Linked DNA regions of Homo sapiens. The protein of the gene in region 2 interacts with the protein of the main gene of each other region in a pairwise test. Each region holds a gene or a part of one and is shown on either strand. Other genes may lie near its edges.

Region 1 (3,500 bases), on a different chromosome or scaffold from region 2:
TACTCCACTAAGTCTTTTATAATATGGGGATGGAAGTGACATTGTTTACTATATCATATGTAAGTTTGGCCATACTTGCCAACATGTATTTCCTTAAGATTTCCAGCATACTACCATATTATATAGTATCATAGTATCTCTTTCATTCTTCACTGATGATGCTAGAGTTATATATGAGATTGTCTTCATACAAATTGTCTTATCCTAGTTTTTTATTTTATTAATAACTGTAATTTTATCAGAATAATTAAAGTTATCTTAACACCTCGATTTCTGTTACTTATTTTGAATTACTAAGTAACAAGTAGAGTATAGAGAAATTGTTTTTAGCTTGAGAGAGTAAAACATTTTAAAACATAGAAATGTATAGCTATTCTTCGTATGTTAAAGGCTGTCTCTTTCCTTCTCTTTTTTTTAGGTTGATATTTCTGGATTTCAGCTTTCTTCTCACACTCAATACAGGACAGCTTTTGAAACCATAATACTGCTTACAAAAGTAGGTTTTCTGTTTTACTGTGTTCTGTATTTGGTCTAATACATAGGAATGTAAGACTATATGAAATAACATAATTACAGTCTATACATACTCCACCTTTAAAGCTTTGATGTCAGTTAAAGAATTACTTAAACTTGTTGTCTCCATTTCCTCTACATTCATTTGCTCCTCAAACTACTGCAGTGGATAAAACACTCCTGGGCTTCCAAATCCCCATTACATACTTCCCAGGTTTTTATCTTGCTTCAGCTTTGGCACATTGTTTAATTCCTCTTGTTTCTCATTCTTAGTTTTGTGACCGGTAATCTTCTGGTTCTATTTCTACTCTTACACTATTTCTCCGTCTACTTTTTAGGCTCTTTTTTCTCATCCTTTAAGTAACATTATTCAGAGTTCTGTCCTAACCTTATTTTCTATCTTACTCACTCCCGTTGCTTTAGTTACAATTAATAATATTGATGACTGCCAGATCTGTAGCTGATACCTAAATCTTTTCATTGTTCTTTCTTTTTTTTTGAGACAGAGTCTTGCTCTGTCTGCCAGGCTGTAGTGCAGTGGCATGATCTCGGCTCTCTCTGTCTCCCGGGCTCAAGTGATTCTCCTGCCTCAGCCTCCCGAGTAGCTGGGATTACAAGCGTGTGCCACCACGCCCGGCTAATTTTTGTATTTTTAGTAGAGACAGGGTTTCACCATGTTGGCCAGGCTGGTCTCAAACACCTGACCACAGGTAATCCACCCACCTTGGCCTCCCAGAGTGTTGGGATTACAGGTGTGGGCCATTGCACCTGGCCTTTGTTGTTCTTTAGACCAGATGCCCATCGGACATCTTCTTTGACTAGATGTCCCATTAGTCACTTAAACTTAATATGGATAAAAGTAAACTTTTAAAAAACTTTTCGGCCATCCCCATAACTTAGTGAATGTGTAAGCTATGATATACTGATTCTTCTCACCACCTACACAAGCCCTGTCAGTTTTTTATCCTAAATCTCTCTGAAATCCATCCTCTTGTCTTTATCTACGCTGTTATAATCATCAGCCCTTCTTATTGGAATATTGAATCTGGTCCTTTCCATTCTCCCTGTGTCCTGCCTTGCTTCTCTCCAGTCCATTTTTTATATGGCAGCTAGAGTGATCTTTGTAAAAGCACCAAGCTGATGCTGATGTTCCCTGCCTAAAACACTTTGATAGACCCCCATAGCTGTTAGGTTAAAGTCTAACCTGAGCATGATTTATGAAATCTGCAAGTTTAGGCCCCTACCTAGCAGTCCTCCTCTGTAACCCTCTCCCCTAGATGCTATATTTCAGCCATGTGATTTCTCTCTAAGACAACATGGTATTGCCTTACCTCCAGGATTTTATAGATCCTATTTCATTTGCCACTTTTTGTCTATAATGAATAATACTGCTGTGAACATTTGTATGCAGGTTTTTGTATAGACATGTTTTCATTTCTCTTGGATGTATACTTAGGAGTGGAATTGCTGGATCAGATAATAATGCTTTGTTTAACATTTTGAGGAACTGCCAAACTATTCTGAATTGGTAGCACCATTGTGCCATTTTACAGTCCCACCATCAATGTATGTTCCAATTTTTCCACATGAATGTCAACACTTGTTATTGTCTGTCGTTTTTACTTTAGTCATCCTAGTGGGAGTGCAGTGGTATTTTGTTATAGTTCTTATTTGCATTTCTCTTAAGACTAATGATGCTAAGAATCTTTTTATGTGCTTATTAGGCATTTCTGTGTCTTTGGAGAAAAGTCTGTTCAGATTCTGTGTGCATTACTATTTGTATTATTTGTCTTTTAATTGTTGAGTTATAAGCATGTTTTGTATTTTTGGAAATAAGTCCCTTCTCTTTTTTTTTTTTTTTTTTTTTTGAGATGGAGTCTCACTCTGTCGCCTGGGCTGGAGTGCGGTGGCACAGTCTCGGCTTAATGCAACCCCCACCTCCCAAGTTCAAGTGATTCTCCAGCCTCAGCCTCCCCAGTAGCTGGGATTACAGGCATGTGCCACCACGCCCATCTAATTTTTGTATTTTTAGTAGAAACAGGGTTTCACCATGTTGGCCAGGCTGGTCTTGAACTCCTGACCTCAGGTGATCCGCCCACCTGGCTTCCCAGAGTGCTGGGATTACAGACGTGAGCCACCATGCCCAGCTGGAAATTAAGTCCCTTCTAAGATACATAATTTGAAAATATTTTCTCCCCTTCTGTGACTTGTCTTTTCACTTTTTCAGTGTATTTTTTCTGTATTCTTTGTGGCACAAAACTATTATTTATTTATTTAATTTTCCAGTTTTATTAAAGTGTAATTGACATAAAAATTGTGTGTACTTAAAGTGTACAAGTGATATTTGGATATATGTTTACCTTGTGAAATGATTGAATCAAGCTAATTAACATGATCCATCATCTTACATACTATTTTATGTGTGTTGAGAATATTTAAAATCTGTTTTAGCAATTTTCAAATATATAATACATTAACTATAGTCATCATACTGTAAAATAGATCTTCAGGGCTTATTCATCCTATTTAATTGAATCTTTGTTCCATTTGACCAACACCCCTCCATCTTCCTCCCCCAAGCACCCTGGCAACCACCATTTTCTCTGCTACTATGAATTCAACCTTTTAAGATTCCACATATAAGTGGGATTATGCAGTATTTTTTTTTCTGTGCTTGGCTTATTTCACTTAGCATAGTGTTCTCCAGGTTCATCCATGTTGTTATAAACGACAAGATTTTCTTTTTTTAAGGCTGAATAATATTCAGTTGTGTGTGTGTATACCACATTTTCGTTATTCATCCATTGATGGACACTGAGGTTGATTCCATGTCTCGGCTATTGTGAATAATGTTTCAGTAAAAATGGGAATGCAGAGATCTCTTTGACATACTGATTTTATTTCCTTTGGATATATACCCAGAAGTGGGATTGCCGGATCATATGGTAGTTCTATTTTTAATTTTTTGAGAAATCTTTATACTGCTT
Region 2 (4,033 bases):
CCATTCTTGAGTAAGTAGCCAGGATGGGGGGGCAGGACCCACTCCACTCCAGGAGGACAGACTGCACAGGAGCAGGGGCCAGACTTGATCTTTTTCCATTACGTGAATAAGTGGGAGGCTCCAGGGTGAAGTAGGGCCACCCCGATGCGCTGTGGAGAGGAGGCACGGTGGACGTAGAGGCTCTGGTTTGTCGAGTTGGAGACGGCAAGCCTGGAGAGCCAGGTGAGATTCTACTTCCCAGGCATGGTGCACCTAAAGCTGCACGGAGGTGTGTCCACCCCAAGATGGAATCCAGCCCGGCCCCTTCCTCTAGGCTGAGCACTGTAGCCCCTCCTCCCCAGCTTTTGGCCCCCGCTTTATGGTCACTTGGGGCTTCCTCATTGTAGTGCACTTGCAGAGAGGATTCTGGGGCGGCATAGACTATCAGCACCTTTAAAATGACGTGAGTGCGGGCCCCTGGGTCCCATAGAGCAATGGGGGACTTGCCTGCAGCCCCTTCCTCTGTGGCCCAGCACCCCCTCCCCTCAGCCTCCTTTGGTCAGGTCAGGTACAGTGCAGTGGGGGTGTTGCAAGGATTAAATGAGAGGACAAGTAGAAGGAAGAAGAGGGAAGATGCTTTGATTTTTAAAGGTTTTTTGATTTTTAAAGGTTTTTTGAGACCAAATCTTGCTTTATTGTCCAGGCAGGAGTGAGTGTGTAGTAGTGGAAGCTCAGCTCACTGCAACCTCTCACCAGAGGGTTTAAATGAGTCTCATGCCTCAGTGTCCTGCATCGCTGGGATTACAGGGATGTGCCACCAGGCCCAGCAAGTTTTATTTTTTTTTTTTTTAAAGAGACAGTGTTTTGCCATGTTGGCTAGGCTGGTCTTGAACTCCTGACCTCACGTAATCCACCTGCCTCGACCCCTCAAGACTTCCCAAAGTTCTGCGATTACAGGCGTGAACCATCACATCCAGCCACCTGGTTTTGTTTAAATAAATGTTCACACTTTAACATGACATTTCAGCTGGGCACAGTGGCTGAAGTTTGCAATCCTGGCACTTTGGGAAGCCAAGGTGAGAAGACAGCCTGAGCCCAGGAGTTAAAGACCAGCATGGGGAACATAGCAAGACCCCATCTCTATTGGGACAGTTTTTGAATTAGGCCGAGTGGTGCACTCCTCTAGTCCCCGCTACTTGGAAGGCTGAAGTGATTGTGCCACTGCACTCCAGCCTGGGCAACAGAGTGAGACCCTATCTCAAAAGAAAAACTACACTGCATTGATTCTATTTAATAAATAGCTGTTGGCCACTATAAGAAGCCAGGCCTTATTCCCTGTGCTGGGGTCACCCTGTCGAGTCTCGATGGAGGTCAAGACAGGAAGAAACATTGAAGGCAGCCGTTGTGTATAGTGGTGGGTCTCAGGCCACCCCAGGGGAACAGCACTGAGGTGGCCTTGGTTGAGCTCCAGCCTCCTCCCCCCGACCATCTCCTGTTGCAGCATCACTGCCGTGAGGCTCTCAGATGGCTTCACCTTTGTCATCTATGAGTTCTGGGAGACAGAGGAGGCGTGGAAGAGGTGAGATGCTGGGTCCCCACAGCAGGTGAGGGAGACAGAGGGAAGTGGGGGGGCTGTCTTCCTGGAGCCAGGCATCCTTGGAGGGGAGGGTAAGGCCGAGTCCAGTCAGCAGATTCCCGAGGCATCTACCCGCTGGCATGCTTGCGTCAGTAAACCCTGGTGGAGGCAGGAGCTCTTGGTGGGTAGTGAGAGCCCCCACCACACTCAGCTGGGCTTTCCTGCTTTCCCCAGGGTTGCTTCTGTGCCCCTAGAGCACCTTGTCCTCCTGGAACAGCCCTGGGGGCCGAGGCACTGCCTTCTTTACCACCCTGTAGAGTTGAGGGCCTAACCTAGAAGGTGACTCAGTCCCCATGTGATCAATTGTTCCAGCGACTAACCTCCCCTCCAGCTGAGTGCCCGGTACGAGGGACGGAGATGGGGTAGGGTGTCAGCAGCTCTGATGGGCCTTAGGCCTTTGTCCTCTGCTCAGCACACATCTGGGAGAGGGTGGAGACTATTGCTGATGCGCCAGACCCCACAGGCAGGAAGCGGGGCCTAGGGGTAGCCCATGCCCCCATCTCCTGCTTCCCTGGTAAACACTCACGGTTTGCTGACAAACTCAGGACCCCAGTGGGAACAGGGGCGGTCATGAGAAGTGAGAGTGTCCCCTCCCTGTCCGTACTTCAGTGACTCATAAAACGAGGGACTAAAAGCCTTCGCAGCTTCTGTGTTGTCATGGGTCCCAGGCAGAGGATGGCCCCACTCCTCCTGCTAGGGTAAAGGGGGAGGTAGAGGCTCTGTGCAATGAGTGGGGGGATCCCGCTGCCCATTTATAGCTCACAGGGAAAAAGAGAAGCTCACTGCCCACCCCAGAGTCAGCCTCCCTGGGCACCCCCTCACCTTCCCACAAAGGCTCTGAGTCCAAAGACCCCCCGTGCTTATTGATAAGCTCCCCATTTTGGGCTAGAGCTAGGATTAACAGGGGAGCCACACGCGGAGCTCCACTCCTGCCACCCCTGACTCACACATGTCCCTGCGTCACAGGCACCTGCAGAGCCCCCTGTGTAAGGCGTTCCGGCACGTCAAGGTGGACACACTGAGCCAGCCTGAGGCCCTCTCCAGGATCTTGGTGCCAGGTAGGGGGCAAAGGCCTGGAACTGCAGTGGCCACCTGACTGGAGAGAAGGGCAAGAGCCTAGAGGCTGCCCCATATCTCCCGGGGACTTGCCTGCTTGCTGTGGGCCCACTGTCAGCTCCTGCCACCAATGCCAGGCTCAGAGCCAGCCCTGAGGTGGCCCCACATACAGGTATGCCTGCCAGAGCTTGCACCAGAGCACCCCCTCCACGGCCCCCTACTTCCAGCCAGACTGAATTTCCCTTCCCAGGTGTGTGGTTTGCACCTGGGTGACCAGCAAGGACCTGTGTGTCACACAAGGACTCAAAGCCATCCCCCGACCTGTCATTCAAGACGACCACCACCAGCTACGAGGCTGCCCACATTCGCACTCCTTCCCTCTAACGTGTCTCTCTCCTTTTAGCTGCTTGGTGCACGGTGGGACGGGACTGACAGCCTCCCAGAGGCCCGTGGAGGAGCCCACCAGCCCCTTCTTCTTGTGAAGGAAATCCCGTTTTTTTCTAGACAGACACTTTGGTGCAGAAGCTTCTTTTCAATCCATCCTCCACAAGAAGGTGTTTCCCTGTTGTTAAGTGAAGGAGGCCGCCCCTGCCCCCACCTGAGAAGGCAGAGCAGTGTCTGTGCTGCCAGGTCCTGGTGAAGCCCAAGGTTGAAGGGGGCGGCTTCCTGGAGCCAGCACCCCTGCCTCCTGGTCCTGGCCTCTCCCCTACCCCTCACATGGCCACGCATGACCCACACTGACCACACCCTGCCCTCTTCGGTGACATTCTTCTACCTAGTAGGAGTCATGCCCCTGTAGTGCCCAACCTAGCCAGGTAGCCACCACTGTGCCCAGGCGCCAAATAAACCCTGGTTGGGAAGAGCTGTGTGCTCTGTGTCTGTTTCCTGGTTGACAACAGCAGGGGGCCAGGGACCCTTCAAGTGCTCCCAGCCTCAGTTTTCTGAACCATGAAATGGTGGTGGTCACTCTATGCGGTATTTGGGAACTAGGCTCATGCCTATTCAGGAGCTCAGCACCACACCTACCCTCAGGTCAGTAATTCAAAGGACTGGGCACAACTGTCAAAGTCACGGTCAAGGTAGGTAGATGACAGACAGACAGACAAAATCCAGCAAAGAAAGAGGCTCCCGGAGTGGGGGGCCAGGCACGGGGCTACCAGTAAAGGCCCATAGCACTGAACCCTCCCAGCTTCAATGCTGATAGAGCATCACCAATCAGGGATGCAGTCCTGAGTCTTACTGGGGTTCGGTGACGCATACACGCTGACACCTCATGGCTCAACACCCCACCATAAATCACATGGTTGGCCCAGACCACGCAGTGTGGCTCAACACAGACACTGTCACCAGGCAGGACGCTCC
Region 3 (3,500 bases), on a different chromosome or scaffold from region 2:
AAAAAAAATTTTTTTTTTAGATTACTCAGGCAGTCAGGCGTGGTGGTGTGCACCTGAGTAGTCCCAGCTACTCAGGAGGCTGAGGTGAGTGGATTGCTTGAGCCCAAGAGGTTGAGGCTGCAGTGAGCCATAATTGTGCCACTGCACTCCAGCCTGGGTGACAGAGTAAGACCCTATCTAAAAAGAAGAGAAAAGAAATATGATAGCTTTGTGCTCATAAATTTGACAGTTTAGAGGAAATGGACTAGTTCCTCAAAAGCTAAAAACTGCCAAAACTCAACTAAGGCGAAGTAAGCAACTTGAATAGTGCTATCAATATTAAATAAATTAAATTAGTAATTAAAAAGCACCCACCCCAAAAATAGCCAGACCAAGAAGTCTACCAAACATTTAAAGAGAATTAACACCAACATTACACAATCTCTTCTGGAAAAAGGAAAAGGAAGGAATATTTCTAAGCTCATTTATGAGGCCAGTATTACCCCTAATACCCAAACCAGATAAAGACAGTACAAGAAAAGGAAAACTATGAACCAATATCTCTGATGAACTTAAACTCAAAAATTATCAATGAAATATTAGCAAATTGAATCCAACATTGTATAACAATAATTATGCAACATGAACAAGACAACATTGCTATTCTCACATTTTATTTAGGAGTATGGATGAGGGTGAGAGGGAGGGTAGGGAAGATACAAGCAGTAAACAAATAAGTATCCAAATGAATTTCAGAAATAAGTGTCTTGAAGAGAATTAAACTAAGCAATGGGGGTTGGAGAATGGAGAAGAAGGAAACTTTTGAGAAGGTTACACTTAAACCGATTCAAGAAGGAGCCAGCCTTTCAGAGATCTAGAATCTTCTCAAGAGACACCATTAATGAAATGAAAAGCCTAGCTACAGACTTGGGGGAACCTGGAAAAAATATTCACAAATGCCAAAAGTGTGACAAAGGGCTCATAGCCAGAAGAATTAGCTATAAAGAACTCTTACAAATCAGTAAGAAAAAGACAAACAAATATAAAAATGGACAAAAGATTTGAACAGGCTTTTCAAAAAAGATATTCAAATGGCCAGTAAGCATATAAAAAAACACTGCTTCATATTATCACATCAAAGAAATGAAAATTAAAACTACAAGAAGATACCATTGTACACCCTTCAGACTCACTATACCAAGTGTGTGTGTGCCCTAGTGAGGGAAGATATGAAGCATCTGTGACTCATACCTTGCTGGTTGGAGTGTAAAATCAGTTTGAAAACTGGGAGTTTTTAATGAAATTAAACCTATGCCTATTGTGACTTGGCAATTTCTCTCTTTCTACCTAAGAGAAATGTGTATATAAGTTCAAAAAGACTTGTAAAGGGATTTTCATAACAACTTTATTAATAATATCAAAAACTGAAAACAACCCAAATATCCATAAGTAGAAAATGGGTAACTAACTTGTGGTATATTTATATAATATAATATAATATAATATCATAGCAGTAGAGAAGAATAGGCTACAGATTAATTCAATAACATGAGTAAATATAAAAACATTATGTTGAAAGAAGGCAGACCAAAAAGTACATGCTGAGTGAATCTATTTGTATGAAGTTCAAGAATAGACGAATAGACAAAAATCTTTGGTAATAAAAGTCAAAATGGTGATTAGTGACTGGAAAAGAGCATAGGAGAATATTCATGGGAATGGAAATATTCTATATATTGATCTCAGTGGTAGATATACAGGTTTTATACATGCTAAAATTTATCTAGCTGTACATTTTACTTTATGGAAATTATGTATTAAACAAACAAACAAAAGATCTGGGTGAAGAATATACCAGGCAGAGGAAACAGCTAGTACGAAGAACATAGCCTGGAAATGGATTTAATGTGGTCAAATAATAGAAAGCCAGTGTGTCTATAATAGGGAGAATGAGGAAGTGGGCTAAAAATTACCAGTTAACTTAATGTAGCAGTGTACTAAGATGATATCAAATGTCAATGTGTTAACTGAGTGTATTATTCACTTAGCATTTTTTGGTTTAAAAAATTTTGTTCAACTATTTGACATTTGTATCATATGGGAAAATATTGACTTAAAAGTCAGTAGATTTGCCTCCACTCATAAATAACTGACAGCTTTTGACATTTCTGGATCTTCATTCCCTCATTTATAAAATTATGAAGTTGTTCTAAATGGTAGCTGAAGACCTTCCCAACTATAATTTTTTTGTGTATCTAGAACTTGAAAAATGCTAAACAAAAGAAGACATCATTATTATTCTTTTTATCTACAGAAATATTTATAGCCAAAGTTATAATGGGAACTGGCTCTTCAAAAATACTTAGAATATTTTAAATCCTTATTAAGGGAGCAGGGGGGAAACCTATAGATGCTTCATCAAAATGTTCTCTAGGAAAACCAGGAAAAGAATGAAGTTCATCTGTTACATTATCACATTATATTATATGTATTTAAAGGAACAAAAAATAATCAGAAGACAGTTTCTGCCAAAATAGATTTTAATTTTTATAGTTTTTCACAGTATTTACTTTATATTTGAGTTACCTGTATACTTAAGTACAATGGTTTAAATAAATGTGGAGTTTAGATTTAGACCTTGTCTATCCCTTTTAGTTTCTGTAATCCAATCATTGAAGTATGGCTTGATGGTAGAAGAGTTTTGTTTTTTAATAAAATGCTTCAAGTACTGTAAATGTATGTTTGATTTTAGTTTCAACAGTTTCTTAAAAACTAATACATTCAATTTTTATTATATTTATTTAGCATTTTTTATTTAACCTATCTATTCATTTCTGTCTTATTTTCAGAACTGAAGGCAGAAGCTAGTCTAATGGACCAGATGAGTAGTTGTGATAGTTCATCAGATTCCAAAAGTTCATCATCTTCAAGTAGTGAGGATAGTTCTAGTGACTCAGAAGATGAAGATTGCAAATCCTCTACTTCTGATACAGGGAATTGTGTCTCAGGACATCCTACCATGACACAGTACAGGATTCCTGATATAGATGCCAGTCATAATAGATTTCGAGACAACAGTGGCCTTCTGATGAATACTTTAAGTAAGTATACATAAACACAGGCAATTGGAAAAGTAAGAATTTATAGTGGAGCCATATTGATTGTGACCTAATATTTGGATAAAGAAAAAGATTCCTATTTTATGCATTTGATACTATTAATAATTACATTTTTATTGAATTATGGTTTTCTTTTGAATCTGTGACATAATGCCTTCTTGGTTTTTCTCCCATCTCTCTAGATAATCTTTCCTCTCACTCCTTTTCAAGTTTATATGATCCTCTGCTCAGTCATTAAAGTTGGAGTTTCTCAAGGCTTACTTTTGGGTTCTTTTTTTCTTTTCATTCTACAATTTCTCCCTAAATAACTTCCTCCATGTTTCTGTTGCAGTCAATACTTATGTGTAGGTAACTTGCAAATTTATATCTCTGATTCAAACCTCTAGGCTTTAGACACATGTT
Region 4 (3,500 bases), on a different chromosome or scaffold from region 2:
TTTGCATATTTTCTTGCTGGAGTTTTGTTTGTTTTTTAAATTGATTTATGAGTTCTCTTTTGTCAGTTAAGAGTTTTTAACCTTTTTTCCAGTGGCTTTACAATCTTTAACACAAATTTTTAAAATTGTTATGCTTAATTTTTATCTCTCAACTTTTTCCTTTATGGGAACATTATTACAAACAAAGAATAAATTAAGGTAGCATGAGAGTTAACTGGATTTCATCTCACTGAATTATAAACTCCATGAACACTGGGACAGCACCCATTTGCTCAACATTCAGTTCCCAGTGCCTAGAAGAATATCTAGCACGAAGTAGAAATGCTATAAATATATGCATAAATGCAATACATTTACATATGTTTTCTGGGTTTCTTTCTCATGGTTATTTCTTTTTTTTTAAAATAAGATTTTAGACAGATTGAAACCAGGGTCTGTGATGTTTACTTCACTTCCATAATACCTGATAAAACACCAGATGTTCAGGAGTTACATTTTAATATAAAACTGTTGAATGAAAATTTCACAAATGCAATGATTTCAATTATTTGTATTTTTAAAATTCTAGATATTAGTTTTATGAAGCTAACCTACTTTACTCAAAACCAGACTTTAAAGATGGAAAATTGAATTTCAAAACCTATTTTTCATTAATAATCTCTAATAATTAAACTCTTCTATATGCAAAAGGAAGTTTCATTAACACTACACTTCACCTAGTCTTATTTTCTAACATTTACTAGAAGTCACAGTGAATTATACTACTTATGAAATAACATACAAAAAAATATAATGAATTACACATCTGTGGTGACTGCTTTCCAGCTATCAGATAGGAACTAAACCACAGTATCCATGAGTCTAAAAAGTTAAGTGGAATAAACAATTTTCATTCCCGCCAAATAAGTATCCCGTGTATCTCTGGGTTGGCAGTTATACACGTATATTTATTCAATTTTTATGGTTTAATAACCATATTCATATTGGAGAGATGAAAGGTATAAAGGTTAATGGTTTAATATTTCTTTGTATAAGCAATATTAGTGACTTGTAAAATATTTAAGGCTCAAATTCTTTCAAATACAGTTCAAAATTACCTTTGTAGCACATATCTTAGAAAATAAGCTTTTCCCTCAGGTATTTCAATGCCTTTTTAAGAAGGCACATGTATCTCAATTCATCTGCTCTGCAACTGAGTTGCTCTTTAAGAGTCAGTACTCTGCTCCAAATAATCGGTCCTTCACTATAATTTCAGAAACAAAGAGGTATGAGGTATGACACTGTAACAGTCTTTTTCTTCTGGTAGTGTATATTAAATACCATGATTACATACTATGTAAATAACGTCGTCTGTGACCTATCACCTCTCTGTTAGCGGTCTAAACCACTGCTGTACATTTGTGTCACTTCCGGAGCTTTATAACCAATTCAGCAGAACCTCAGGGGGTAGGACCCAAATGTCAAGATTTTTCTAAGTTCCCAGGTGAATAATGTACAGCAGAGGTTGAGAAACACAACACTACAGGAACTCTTAATGTTCAGACAAGTTCAGAAAAGTTACGTATGCGTGTCTTGTCAAAAGCAGAGCACCTCCTCTTAGTTTTTTTTTTTTGGCAACCTTTTAAGTAGCAATGCAAACAAACAAAAAAAACCTACTCTGCATTTGTGAACTGAACCTATGCTGCATTTCTTTTCTAAATGAGACGGTTGGGTAATTACATTGAGGACTACTTCTAGCATGCATGGTCTAGTCAATCGGTATTAATTAACCAGCTTCCCTGTCCCCAAAATAGTCTTTTAATGTGCCAAACAGCCCCAGAAGAGGCTTGAAGAAACTGTTATATTGGGGAAAAGGAGTACCCACTCAAATTGTATCTTCTATCTACTAATTCAGATATAAAAAATTCATTTACCCGCATATTCTTAATGTATTTCTGCTATACTATAATTATAAACATGATTATTTTATAATATATTTAGCTATGTATAGGAACTGTTCACAGATTTTGGCATAAAATAGATTTGTAAATGAATGCTAGTGTCTTTCCCTATTTTAGAAGGTAGTCAGTACTTGGAATTATTCAGTAGGGGTTTCAGTTATCATTCCTAGTACTTCTTACAAGTTCTTATTGTGATGATTCAAGCAATGCTACTAAAAAAATTTTAAGTTTAGGTCAATTATTTTAGAGAAATACACACAATGCATTTTTATTTTAGATTTTGTGACAAATGAAAACAAACATTTAAATAACACTCTCCGTCAAGTTCTATTCTAAGTGCTTATATATATGTAAATTCATTTAATCCTCAAAATTACTGAGAAAGACATGTTATCATTGTTTTCTATTTTACAAGTGAGGAAAAAGAGGCATACAGAAGGTTAATTTGTAGAAATGGGGTTCAATCCCAGGCAGTCTGACTCCAATGTACAGGCTCTTAAAACAACCTCTGCCTCCACGGTTAGAATATTTGACCTTACTGGCTGATTAAAAAATTTTGACATGGCTGCACAATGATATTAATATTTTTACATTATATCTAAAGTTTAAAGTGTGTTCAGTAATTTTCCATTTCAAGGATATTTTTATATAATATCCTTTAAGACTTACAGAAGTATAAAAATTAAAGTGTTCAAATTATATTATTAACTCGTTAGGGTATGAGGCTTTGGATCAGCACCTTATTATAGGACATAAGTGATTTCCCAATATGCAACTTACACGTTTATCAATATCACCATGCTGAAGCTGAACAAACCGAGCACTAATGGCAGCAATATAGCTCTGCTGATTGGAGAAAGCAACTCGCCCAGCACCTTTTGGGTATTTTAGCTCAGGATCTGTATCAATTCCTGCATAACAAACTCCACCATACAGCCGGTCCATGATCATAGCAAGTTCCACTTGAAAAGGAAAAGAAGTTTACATCAAATGTGAGAGAACACAGTAATCAACAATTTTTAAGTACTTTTTGTAAAACGTAAAAGTCAATAGTATATTATCATTTGACCAGGAGTAGAATGGCAGATAAGAGGCTGTTGTTAAAAAAGGACGGGGATCGAGGATGCTTTTTTTAAACTATAAAGTGACTCACCACCATCACATCTACCTACTTACAGCACTAAACCCACTATATACTCTATCTTCTGTCCTATAGAGAAATAGTTCCATGCTCTTTCCTAAATCCAATCCTTTCACTTGCATACTAGATCCCATACACTCTCACTTAGGACACTGCTTCAGCAATTCTCCCCTTTCCCTTCTATACAATCAATTTTCCCAAGTACACTATAATTTTCCTATCTTAAAAAAAATTCCCATAACACTTTTTCTCCCTCTCAGCTACTGCTCCATTTCTCTGTTCCCCTTTACAACCAAATTTCTCAAAATCTGTTCCAGTATTCCCCCCAATTCCTCTCCTCCCTTTCTCTTTATTCAACTCTTTTTCTAACCAGACTATCACACCATGACTCCACTATAATTGTTCAAGCCAAGTCCAAT
Region 5 (3,500 bases), on a different chromosome or scaffold from region 2:
GAAAAGAACACTTAGAACAGAATCAGGCACGTGATGAGTGTTCTGGTAGTGCTAGAAGTGATGATTGTGATTCTAGTTATTACCTACCAGGAGTTCTGCTCAGCTCTGGAGCCATACATACTTGAGATGCAGGGATAGATGTAATTTCCTTACGGTTATTTGTCATTTGCCAAATATTTTATTCTTTTCAGCCTGTGACATTCTGGCCATTGATAAGTCCCTGACACCAGTCACCCTGGTCCTGGCAGAGGATGGCACCATAGTGGATGATGACGATTACTTTCTGTGTCTACCTTCCAATACTAAGTTTGTGGCATTGGCTAGTAATGAGAAATGGGCATACAACAATTCAGGTAAGAAACTCTAGCCATGTATAAAACGGCCTATGCAGTACAGCATCCATCATGATTACTTTCACTGCACAGACAATTGCCATTTGTCTGGCTTTTTAAGCATTTGTTCAACAGATATTTACTGAGCACTTTCTATGTGCCAGACATGGTGCTGAGTCCTGGGGATAAAGATGAATGAGGCCAGGCACGGTGGGCAGATCACCTGAGCTCAGGAGTTTGAGACCAGCCTGGCCAACATGGCGAAAGTCCATCTCTACTGAAAATACAAAAACTAGCTGAGCATGGTGGCAGGCACCTGTAATCCCAGATACTTGGGAGGCTGAGGCGGGAGAATTGCTTGAACCTGGGAGGTGGAGGTTGCAGTGAGCTGAGATTGTGCCACTGCACTCCAGCCTGGGCGACAGAACGAGACTCTGTCTCAAAAAAAAAAAAAAATAGATGAATGAGACATGGGCCCAGTTCTCAACTAACTCATGGACAGACAGCAACTGAAATGCAGCCTGGCAGGGAGCTCAGTGCTGCAGGCTGCAGTCCAGCTGTTGAGGTCTGGATCCTGGCTCTACCATTTACTAACCAGGTGACCTTGTGCAAATTACATAACTTCTCAGTGCCTTGTTGACATAATAATTATAGAACCTGTCCCCTAAGATTGTTGTAAAGATAATATAGTACATATCAAACCAGGGTTTCTCAATGACACTGCTGACATTTGGGGCTGGAGTTGTGAAGAGGATGCTTTGTGTATGATAGGACGTTTAGTAGCATCCTAGATGTTACGAACCTCCCCCCACAACTGTGATAACCAAGAATAAATGACTCCAGATATTGTCAGATGTCTCCTGGGGGGCAAAATTGCTCCCACTTGAGAACCACTGATATGAAGTGTTTAGATCTTACCTGGCACATAGTTAAGGACTCAATAATTGTTACCTGTCCCTGCCATCATCATCATCACAGGAGATAGAAAGGGGACTAACATTGGTGACCAAGGATCAAGAAGTGTCTTGAGAGGGGATTAGTTTTAGGGAGGGACTTAAAAAAAAAAAAAGTGTCCTGAAGTGTGCCACAAAATTGAGGAAGTCATCCTACAGCAGTGGCCCTACCAGCCACCTTTGTGCTCAGGCCTAAGGGACAGCAATCGATGGCTACAGCTCTGCCAGTTAAAGAAGGGACCAATCCCCAAGCACAGAGAAATGCTGGCACAAATGACCGTTTTCGTATAAAAAACAGGACACACCTGGACACACAGAAACCAGAAAGGGAAGTGTGATTGGATTCCTTGTAGGTGTGACCACACATTGGGTTTAAATGGCTTTTTCTATGGAAGAATACAGAGCCGTTGCACACAGAGATAAAGATGAAAGAGGGTCAGGCACGGTGGCTTATGCCTGTAATCCCAGCACTTTGGGAGACCGAGGTGGGCAGATCACTTGAAGTCAGGAGTTTGAGACCAGCCTGGCCAACATGGTGAAAGCCCGTCTCTACTAAAAATACCAAAATTAGCTGGTCATGGTGGTGGGCACCTGTAATCCCAGCTACTTGCAAGGCTGAGGCAGGAGAATCGCTTGAACTCGGGCAGTGGAGGTTGCAGTGAGCCAAGATCGTGCCACTGCACTCCAGCCTGGGCAACAGAGTGAGACTCTGTCTCAAAAAAAAAAAAAATGAAAGAAGAGGGAAAATCAAGGTCCTGGATGGATATTGACCCTCCTGTGAATCCTTGAGATAAGATGCTTCTTTCCCATTGAAATTAATCTAGATCCTCAAGAGGTCTGTGTGTGCTGGGGGAGGAGGTGAAAACAGCACTTCAGGTTGTTCTGTGACTGGCATTTTCTCCCATGTGTCAGATGGAGGTACAGCTTGGATTTCCCAAGAGTCCTTTGATGTAGATGAAACAGACAGCGGGGCAGGGTTGAAGTGGAAGAATGTGGCCAGGCAGCTGAAAGAAGATCTGTCCAGCATCATCCTCCTATCAGAGGAGGACCTCCAGGTAAAGCCTCCTCCACAACCTGCAACAATGTTCATCCAGCCTCTGCCCCCCGCCCCAGCACCTTCTTAGCTTCCATACTTGCCATAGCAATTTCTTTGTTTTAATCTTAATTTTTAAATAATTCTTAAATTACAACTAAGATTTTTCATCTTCTCATTCTCACCTAGAGTAATTTTTCAACCCTCGTCACGAAGCAGAATTACCTGTGGATTTTTTTTTTTTTTTTTTTTTTTTTTTGAGACACAGTCTTACTCTGTCGCCCAGGCTGGAGTGCAGTGGTGCAATCTCAGCTCACTGCAGTCTCCACCTCCCGGGTTCAAGCAATTCTCCTGTCTCAGCGTCCCAGGTAGCTGGAATTACAGGTGCACACCAACACGCCTGGCTAATTTTGGTATTTTTAGTAGAGACAGCGTTTCATCATGTTGGCCAGGCTGCTCCTGAGTTCAAGTGATCCACCTGCCTCAGCCTCCCAAAGTGCTGAGATTATAGGCGTGAGCCACCGTGCCCGGCCAGATTTTTTTTTTAATACAAATGCCTGGGATCCACCCTAAACCTAGTTAGGTGGACGCTGGGGTCAGGGATGCCCTGCTAGAGAATGTAGCGTTGGAGTAGATGGCTTCACATCCCAGCGCTGTCACCACGACTTTGAGCCAGTAGCTTAGCTTCTCTCCTTGTGTTTTCTCTCTAGTAAGATTGGGATAGGCCAGGTGCAGTGGCTCACGCCTGTAATCTCAGCACTTTGGGAGGCCGAGGCGGGCAGATCACGAGGTCAGGAGATCGAGACCATCCTGGCTAACATGGTAAAACCCCATCTCTACTAAAAATACAAAAAATTAGCCGGGCCTGGTGGTGTGCACCTGTACCTGTAGTCCCAGCTACTCGGGATGCTGAGGCAGAAGAATCGCCTGAACCCAGGAGGTGGAGCTTGCAGTGAGCCGAGATCGCACCACTGCACTCCAGCCTGGGTGACAGAGAGAGACTCCATCTCAAAAAGAAAAAAAAGATTGGGATAAAAACAGTATGTTTTCATTCAAAGAAAATTTCTCTTTGAGACAGGGTCTTGCTTTGTCACCCAGTGCAGTGGCATGATCATAGCTCACTGCATCCTCGACTTCCTGGGCTCAAGCCATCCTCCCACCTCAACCTCTCAGGTAGCTGAG
Region 6 (3,500 bases), on a different chromosome or scaffold from region 2:
AATGTTTACAGTAGACATAAATCTTATACAATTCAAAAAGCTTTTGTTCAGATCATAGAGCATAAAATGGAAAAATGTATATGCAGGTGAAATCTAACTACTGTACATTTATCACCTATTAAAGTTGCTTATATGTACCACAGTGTAAAAAAACAATACCGAACAAATAAAAACCTCGAAAATTGCCTGATGAAAAATAAAATAACCAGTGGCTTTTAATGGCTTCTCCTGGTTATCAGTGCTACAAAAGACAAAAATCTTCTCATCTGAACAGGTGATAAAACCAGGCACAATCAAACCGTTACCAAATTAGACCCACCCATAGAAATATACTATCCACCCACATATTTTCCATCAAAAGCTTTTTGTTTGTTTCAATCTGAATCTTTGAGGCCCATTTGGTCACAATATGTTACAAATATTTGTGTATGTGTGTGTTTTTTACACCATGATATCATATGTTTGTCTGGCACTATCCTAAAGCTAGTTTATAGACGATGATGATATAGAAACAACCCAGTGCCTATATGACAAATGAACTCACTGGGTAGAAATGAGACAGGGGAGGAAGGAATTCAGTTCTACCAAGGAAAAAGGTCCATACTGATCACTCATCATCCGTCCCACTTCCTTCTGACTGTTCCTAAAAGTAAAAATAAGAAGATAAAATGAAGTAACATCACATGCAAGAAAAAGAAGATATAACAACAAACCATCAAGAGGCCAGTAGGAAAAAATGACATTTTGGAAACAACTCGCCAAATCTCTTTCCGTGGGAGGACAGAAACACATTAAAGAGGCATCGACAGTCTCTAAGCTGAGAAGTTTTTCTTACTGAAAAACCCCAAAGCAAAGCCCACCCTCTAAGCTATTGTTTGTGCCCTTTCACTTTGGCTTGAAAGGTTTATGGCTAATATTTTCTCTTTTTCAGCCCCAGGTTTTAGAAAATTCATGGGAGAAAAAAAAATACCCTGCATTTGACATCTCCTAAAGAAAAATGTATTTGAAAATGCTTGCATCAAGGGTTAAGGCTGGGGTGAGATCATAATTCTGAAATTTTACCAAAATGGTAATGTGTTGAAGGAAAATCAAACTAGGAAAAGGGAAATTTATCTTTCCAGAAAGAAAATAATGTGGGTGCCAGGAAACCATCCTCTGGAAAGTGAATGGATGAAATGAAGGGTATTTCAAAAGGCAAGGTATTAGGAGCTTCTGCCCACTCTTCTACCTTGCTGCCCAGTCAGACATAGCACACTAGACTGAGTTATGCTACTCGGGTCCGAATTCCACCTCTGCGACGTGATCTGTAGCAAAACACCCATAACCTAACCATTTCCATAACATGTTATTTGAGAGTGACATCTATCTCACGATGCCGACATCAGTATTTAATATGCTACCACACAGGGAGGTACCTATTACAAGGCCTGGCTCAATAGATGCTCACTGAATTTTTCAAATATGAAAAATAACACCCCTAGGTACTTAAAAAGTCCTTTGAGTTTTTACATGGTCCCTTAAGTAGCAACTCGAGCCAATAACTCTGACGTCATAACAGTTTTTCTCATTCTTCCATCTAATCTACTGTTATGTACCAGGCACCATGCTGGCTGTGATGCATGTAAAATATTAACTGGCTACGGGGAAAACCATATTTATAAGAAAGCATGTGGGAAGATTAAAAAGGGGGAAAGGGAAGCTTGATTTGGTAGTTTTTCATTTTTGAAGACTATTAAAAAGGCAATAAACAAAGCCCCCAATCCTTTGTTCTAAATCATACAGCTCCGTTCACATCCCTCAATAATGAAATCTCACTAAATCCTGACATTTCCAGTCCTGGGTAATAAAGCGAAAAGGCTGAAGGGGCATGGAAATGCAAGAGGCCAGCAAGCAGGGGAGAGGGCGTCTCCGCCTTCAGTCCCAGTCGGCTACACTTACACGTTCATCCTGCTCCTCATCGCTGTCAAAATCGCTCACTACAGGTTTGGCTTTTCCTCGATTTGGCCTTTTCTTGCCTTTCCCTTTGTCCCGGCCTTTGTCATCTTTTTTATTGAGCTTAATTTTCACCTTGACTGATTTTGCTAAAACCAAAGCAAATGAAATAGACACCAGTGAGTAATCACAAGGAGATCTTTGTATAGGTGGTAAGACTATCACCAACCTACAGACAACACAAACATCCCAGAGTGCCCAGAACATTCCCGGTTTATGCCTGTTCTGTGTGGTTCTGTCTAGTCAGCGACCCCTTTCACTTGCCAACCTGTCTTCTTTTGGAAGATAAATGATGTAGTCACGCTAAACAGGCAACAAGAGGGACCGAGGTCTCATGGAGGACAGTGGGGCTGGATCCTTCACCTGTCTCCCAATGGCTGACCAAGGATAATGAGGGGAAGTGTTTTCTACTTGTGGAGGTGTTGGGCAATCATTTAATAGAACTTTTACATTAAAAATATAAATAAATGTAAAGAGTTTAAAGGCCAATAATTTTACCATGTAGATAACTCCATTGACTTAAAAAGAAAATTCAAATAGTTCAATCATATTTTTAACATAAAGGTACAAAATGGAAAGTAAAAAGAAAACACTTTTGAATGCTTCCTTTCCCCCATTCCTAGTCTCTTTCCCTATAACTAATTATTTCCAGGAAAAAAAATGTTTATGTCCATACCTGCAAGTACATCCATTTCTCTCTCTCTGTGTGTATGTGTGTGTGTGTGATTCTACATATTCTATAAAAGTCTCTCTATAGAATATAAAGAATTCAAGTAAGTATATATACACACGTACATACTTGAATTCTTTATGTAGTTATCCCAAAGGGATCTTTATACATGTCCATATTCTCCACTTGGCTGTTTACTCACATATGTGGGATATTTATAGGTAAAGCCTCATACATACCTGCCTAATTCTTTTAAATACCTGAAAATTTTCCATCGTATGGTATACTATAATTTATTTAATCAGTCTCATATGATGAGGGCTGAAGTTTGCTGCTTTTTTTGCTAGTATAAACAAAGCTGCTGTGAACCTATTTCAATGTATCTTGGTAGAATTTGAGGGAGGTATGGTGGACATGTCCATATGGTAAATTTCTAACAGTGCTCTGTCAGATTAGCCTTCAGAAAGACTGCACCCATTTCCACCTTCACAGGACTATTCTGGGGATACCAATGGAAACACTTGGAAGAGTTCAAGGTACAATATCACAAATATAGGTACATATCCCAAAGAACAAAGACAATCTGCTCCATGGTAGCTATTTGGGATAGGTATCCACAGAATACCATTTTTGGTATTTGATGATGAAGGCACTGAAAATGTGGGTCTCTCATTCAAGCTAGCTTTGCTAGACTACCATGTTTGGTGGGTCTCAAGGCATCTAGAAATAGATGTTGTCATAGAGGGAATCCTAGCTCCAGAAGGAGATGAGAGTGTTTGTTTCAGACTTCTTTTGTGAAGTAGAGGGACCCACAAAATATTTCCAAAACTAAAATCTC
Region 7 (3,500 bases), on a different chromosome or scaffold from region 2:
ACTTTGGGATTTTTGCCAATCCAGTAGGTGAGAATTGTATCTCAGTGTGATGTCTGATTATGAACAGGTCATATTTTCTGAGGTTTTAATTAACTGGTCTCCCCCGCCCTTTGAACAGTGCCCAATTTAATCAGTCACACACAAAAATGTAAATTATTAGTTCAAGCTTTTCTCCAGGTACTTAATTCTTCCTCTTGGAGGGAAGATCAGATTTCCTTCAGAGCTACCAGGTGCAAGGAGGAGAATATTCAGCCCCACCATGTCACCTTCCCCACCAGAAATGAGGCAGATACACAGAAAAGGTTAGGTTTCCAGATGAACTGGTGGGAGCCCTGGCCCAGAACCTGGCCACAGAGCTGCTGTTTTCTTGCTAACCAGACTAACCTGGCTCCAGCCAGCTCTTTCAGAACCCTTTTGATACCTTATTTGAAAGTATCTGCTGTCTCTGATCCAGGTTACAAATGACTTATTTCTAACAGTGGTCTCTAGATGAGATCCTTCGTTGTTGTTGTTTTTTTCTTTCTTTCTTTCTCTCAGCATGGAGCTTTTGGAGAGTGTCTTTATTCTGAGTGAAAGAAAAGGAAGAGGATGAAAAAGCAAGAACAGTTTAAAGGAGCTCCTTCTCTCATGGACCACTTCCATCCACCCACTCCCCAAATCACAAGATGCACATTTGGTTTACATCAGTGAATTCAGTGATTTGTGCAGATGTGAATTAACCCAATCCCATGACTTGTCTAAGTGAAAGTGCCTACATGGAATAAACTGAAAAGGGGTGCTGGATGGAAGAGATGGTTAGTTTTAGAACATAAATCTTTGTCAAGATTAAGACAGGCCCAGGTTTTGCTGAAGAATGGAATCTGGACCAGCGTTAGAGGACCTGTATGTCTAGTGAAGAAAAACCAGAAGAAAGTGAGATATACTTCGTTTCTTCCAAAACTTTGTCAAATAAGGTTAACCCTTTAATCTCAAGAGAGAGGGAGGAAATAGTCTTATTTTTAAACTACCATGAAATTTGAGATTTATTAATATTAGTACTGGGGTCATCTTACAGTATTGTGTTAAATTGGCTCTGGAGTTAGCCCGGGCTTGTAACTGGCAATTGACAGTGTGGTTTCTATAGGAAATAGTGATCCCAAACCAGGTACAATCTATGATTCTAGATTGCTTATAGTATGGAGTATTCCTTTCCAACTTTGTTTTTCTCTTTCTCATAGGATTCTAACATTTTCAGAGAACCTTTTGGAAAGAACAAGCCTACTTCAATAAATGAAGGAGAATAAAGAAAATTCAAGCCCTTCAGTAACTTCAGCAAACCTGGACCACACAAAGCCATGTTGGTACTGGGATAAGAAAGACTTGGCTCATACACCCTCACAACTTGAAGGACTTGATCCAGCCACCGAGGCCCGGTACCGCCGAGAGGGCGCTCGGTTCATCTTTGATGTGGGCACACGTTTGGGGCTGTATCCTGACTCTCCTTGGAATCTGTTACAGATAGGCTCCCCACTCACCACCAAGAAATAATTAGATTCTGTAGACAAAATATATAGTAATTTCTCTGTACCAGAGCAGTTCTTAAATATCTGTTTGAATGTTGTTTCTGGTGGGGGTTTTTCTCTTTCTGATTTGTCATTTTAAAGGTGTAGACTTAGCCACTGAGGAGGTGGCCAGCCAGGAGGATATGAGGCACCCATTAGGATCACAGTTGAGGCTGGGCACAGTGGCTCATGCCTGTAATCCCAGCACTTTGGGAGGCCTAGACAGGAGCATCCCTTGAAATCTGGAGTTCGAGACCAACCTGGGCTGCAGTGAGCCAAGATCACACCACTGCACTCTAGCCTGGGTGACAGAGATGCTGTCTCAAAAAAAAAAAGATCATAGTTGAAGTGTTTCTAAAGGGTGTTAAAAGTATAAAACTTCAGCTTGCTAATTCTTGTACCAGAATTCTGACACCCTGAGATTCCCATCTCATTACTTTGCCACTAATATTGTTTACTTTACCATTGATTTTGTTGTTGTTGTTTGTCTTTTTGTTTTTCTACATTTAACTAAGAGTATAACCTGTAAAAGTTATTGGTTAGAGTCCTTAACCAGAACAACAGACACTATGATACCCTGGCAACTGGAATAATTTATTTTCATCGCTTCTATATGTTTCATTCCTTCAAGCAATTCCCAAGATATGTAAGTGTTTGAATTTTATTGTAATTCTCTGTCATATGTTATTATTTCCACACAGTTTGGTGGACTAATTATAAGCTCTATTTTTCTCATATTTTCCAGAAAGTATTTATTTTTATATGGTATATACTGCATATAAACAAAATCAAGTTTGAACTTTTTTTATTCCAATTAGCCATGTTCAAATCTTTTCACTTAGGCCAATATGGACCATAGTCATATTGCGCTTTGTATGAAAGTTTACTCCCGTGGTACCTTTCCCAGCATAAATTTGGGCTTATAATTGAGACTCAACAAAGACCAAGAAAGCAAAATGGAACAGAAGTTGTCTATGCCATATCACTCATTCTTCGGTTACTCCTCAAGACGTGCATTGTGTCTTACTCTCTGTGGGAGATAGAGTAGCTTTCAGTCCAGGATAAGTGGTATGACATGCACAGAACACGTGATGGAAAGTGAGGCCATCAGAAGATACTGATAAAAGAGTTGTGGCATTCAAGGAGGAGACAACTTACATCTTGGAGAGAGCAGGGAAAGTGCTAGGAAGAAGGTGCCAGCATTAAGGTAAGCCTTAAACGTACATAGGGCATAGCCATGCCGTGATGGGCTAGGTCAGTGGTCCAACAGAAGCTAGCATAAGCAGAGGCAGGGGGAACCATGTGACACATTGTCAGCCCAGCCAGGAGCTTGATTTGGCAGGAAGGAAATGATGAGACCCTGGGTGGATAGGTAGACTGGGTCAGACCACGATAAGCCTCGAATGCCAGACTTCAGAAATTTGGCTTCAGTGGGTGAACAATGCAGTAATTAAAAGGTTTCGTGAAAATGACAGACTTAACATTAAAGTCATTGTGTTGATTTGTTAGCTAAGATTTTAGTTAGATTTATATACATGCCTTCCTCACTGGTTGTGAAGTTCTTGAAGAAGGAGACCATGTTGGAATCAGTTTTGTACCCCCGGCAGAGTGTCTGACATCTAGTGTGATCAGGATTATGTGAGGAGAGTGGCATGTAGGAAGGATTGGAGTGGGCAAAGAGAAGCTGAAGACAGAGCAGTTCAGACCCCAGTGATATAGGGACTGAGCTAAGGTTGAGGCAACTGGAGGGACAGTTTCTTCATCCATTCAGGCTGCTATAACAATATGCCTTAGACCCAATAATTTACACACAACAGAAACTTAACTCTTCACAGTTGTAGAGACTGGGAGGTGTAAGATCAAGGTGCTGGCAGATTCTGTGTCTGGTAAGGGTTTGTTCCTCATAAAAGGGCTCCTTGCCGCATCCTCAAATGGTGGAAGGGAGGAACAAGCCCCTTG

What was found.
Region 1: the proteins of NECAB2 (region 2) and GTPBP10 interact in a two-hybrid assay, tested with the Homo sapiens proteins (one large-scale study listed by BioGRID).
Region 3: the proteins of NECAB2 (region 2) and EAF2 interact in a two-hybrid assay, tested with the Homo sapiens proteins (one large-scale study listed by BioGRID and IntAct).
Region 4: the proteins of NECAB2 (region 2) and CPEB2 interact in a two-hybrid assay, tested with the Homo sapiens proteins (one study listed by BioGRID).
Region 5: the proteins of NECAB2 (region 2) and DFFA interact in a two-hybrid assay, tested with the Homo sapiens proteins (one large-scale study listed by BioGRID).
Region 6: the proteins of NECAB2 (region 2) and SMARCA2 interact in a two-hybrid assay, tested with the Homo sapiens proteins (one large-scale study listed by BioGRID and IntAct).
Region 7: the proteins of NECAB2 (region 2) and CCNK interact in a two-hybrid assay, tested with the Homo sapiens proteins (one large-scale study listed by BioGRID).

Annotation. Positions count from the first base shown.
Region 1 is NC_000007.14:90,377,716-90,381,215, forward strand, and holds part of GTPBP10 (GTP-binding protein 10), read left to right. Parts: intron 1-418; coding exon 419-496; intron 497-3,500. UniProt on the Homo sapiens protein: May be involved in the ribosome maturation process. Complements an ObgE(CgtA) function in E.coli ribosome maturation. Plays a role of GTPase in vitro. When missing, disorganization of the nucleolar architecture is observed.
Region 2 is NC_000016.10:83,999,244-84,003,276, forward strand, and holds the end of NECAB2 (N-terminal EF-hand calcium-binding protein 2), read left to right. Parts: intron 1-1,480; coding exon 1,481-1,558; intron 1,559-2,581; coding exon 2,582-2,673; intron 2,674-3,074; coding exon 3,075-3,103; 3' UTR 3,104-3,533; downstream 3,534-4,033. UniProt on the Homo sapiens protein: May act as a signaling scaffold protein that senses intracellular calcium.
Region 3 is NC_000003.12:121,869,709-121,873,208, forward strand, and holds part of EAF2 (ELL-associated factor 2), read left to right. Parts: intron 1-2,828; coding exon 2,829-3,080; intron 3,081-3,280; coding exon of another isoform or gene 3,281-3,336; exon of another isoform or gene 3,337-3,358; intron 3,359-3,500. UniProt on the Homo sapiens protein: Acts as a transcriptional transactivator of TCEA1 elongation activity. Acts as a transcriptional transactivator of ELL and ELL2 elongation activities. Potent inducer of apoptosis in prostatic and non-prostatic cell lines.
Region 4 is NC_000004.12:15,061,481-15,064,980, reverse strand, and holds part of CPEB2 (cytoplasmic polyadenylation element-binding protein 2), read right to left. Parts: intron 2,903-3,500; coding exon 2,721-2,902; intron 1-2,720. UniProt on the Homo sapiens protein: May play a role in translational regulation of stored mRNAs in transcriptionally inactive haploid spermatids. Binds to poly(U) RNA oligomers. Required for cell cycle progression, specifically for the transition from metaphase to anaphase.
Region 5 is NC_000001.11:10,466,030-10,469,529, reverse strand, and holds part of DFFA (DNA fragmentation factor subunit alpha), read left to right. Parts: intron 1-191; coding exon 192-353; intron 354-2,197; coding exon 2,198-2,340; intron 2,341-3,500. UniProt on the Homo sapiens protein: Inhibitor of the caspase-activated DNase (DFF40).
Region 6 is NC_000009.12:2,189,847-2,193,346, reverse strand, and holds part of SMARCA2 (SWI/SNF-related matrix-associated actin-dependent regulator of chromatin subfamily A member 2), read right to left. Parts: intron 2,082-3,500; coding exon 1,939-2,081; intron 644-1,938; coding exon 608-643; 3' UTR 1-607. UniProt on the Homo sapiens protein: ATPase involved in transcriptional activation and repression of select genes by chromatin remodeling (alteration of DNA-nucleosome topology).
Region 7 is NC_000014.9:99,491,409-99,494,908, forward strand, and holds part of CCNK (cyclin-K), read left to right. Parts: intron 1-537; exon of another isoform or gene 538-912; intron 913-1,217; 5' UTR 1,218-1,269; coding exon 1,270-1,466; intron 1,467-2,105; coding exon 2,106-2,187; intron 2,188-3,500. UniProt on the Homo sapiens protein: Regulatory subunit of cyclin-dependent kinases that mediates activation of target kinases.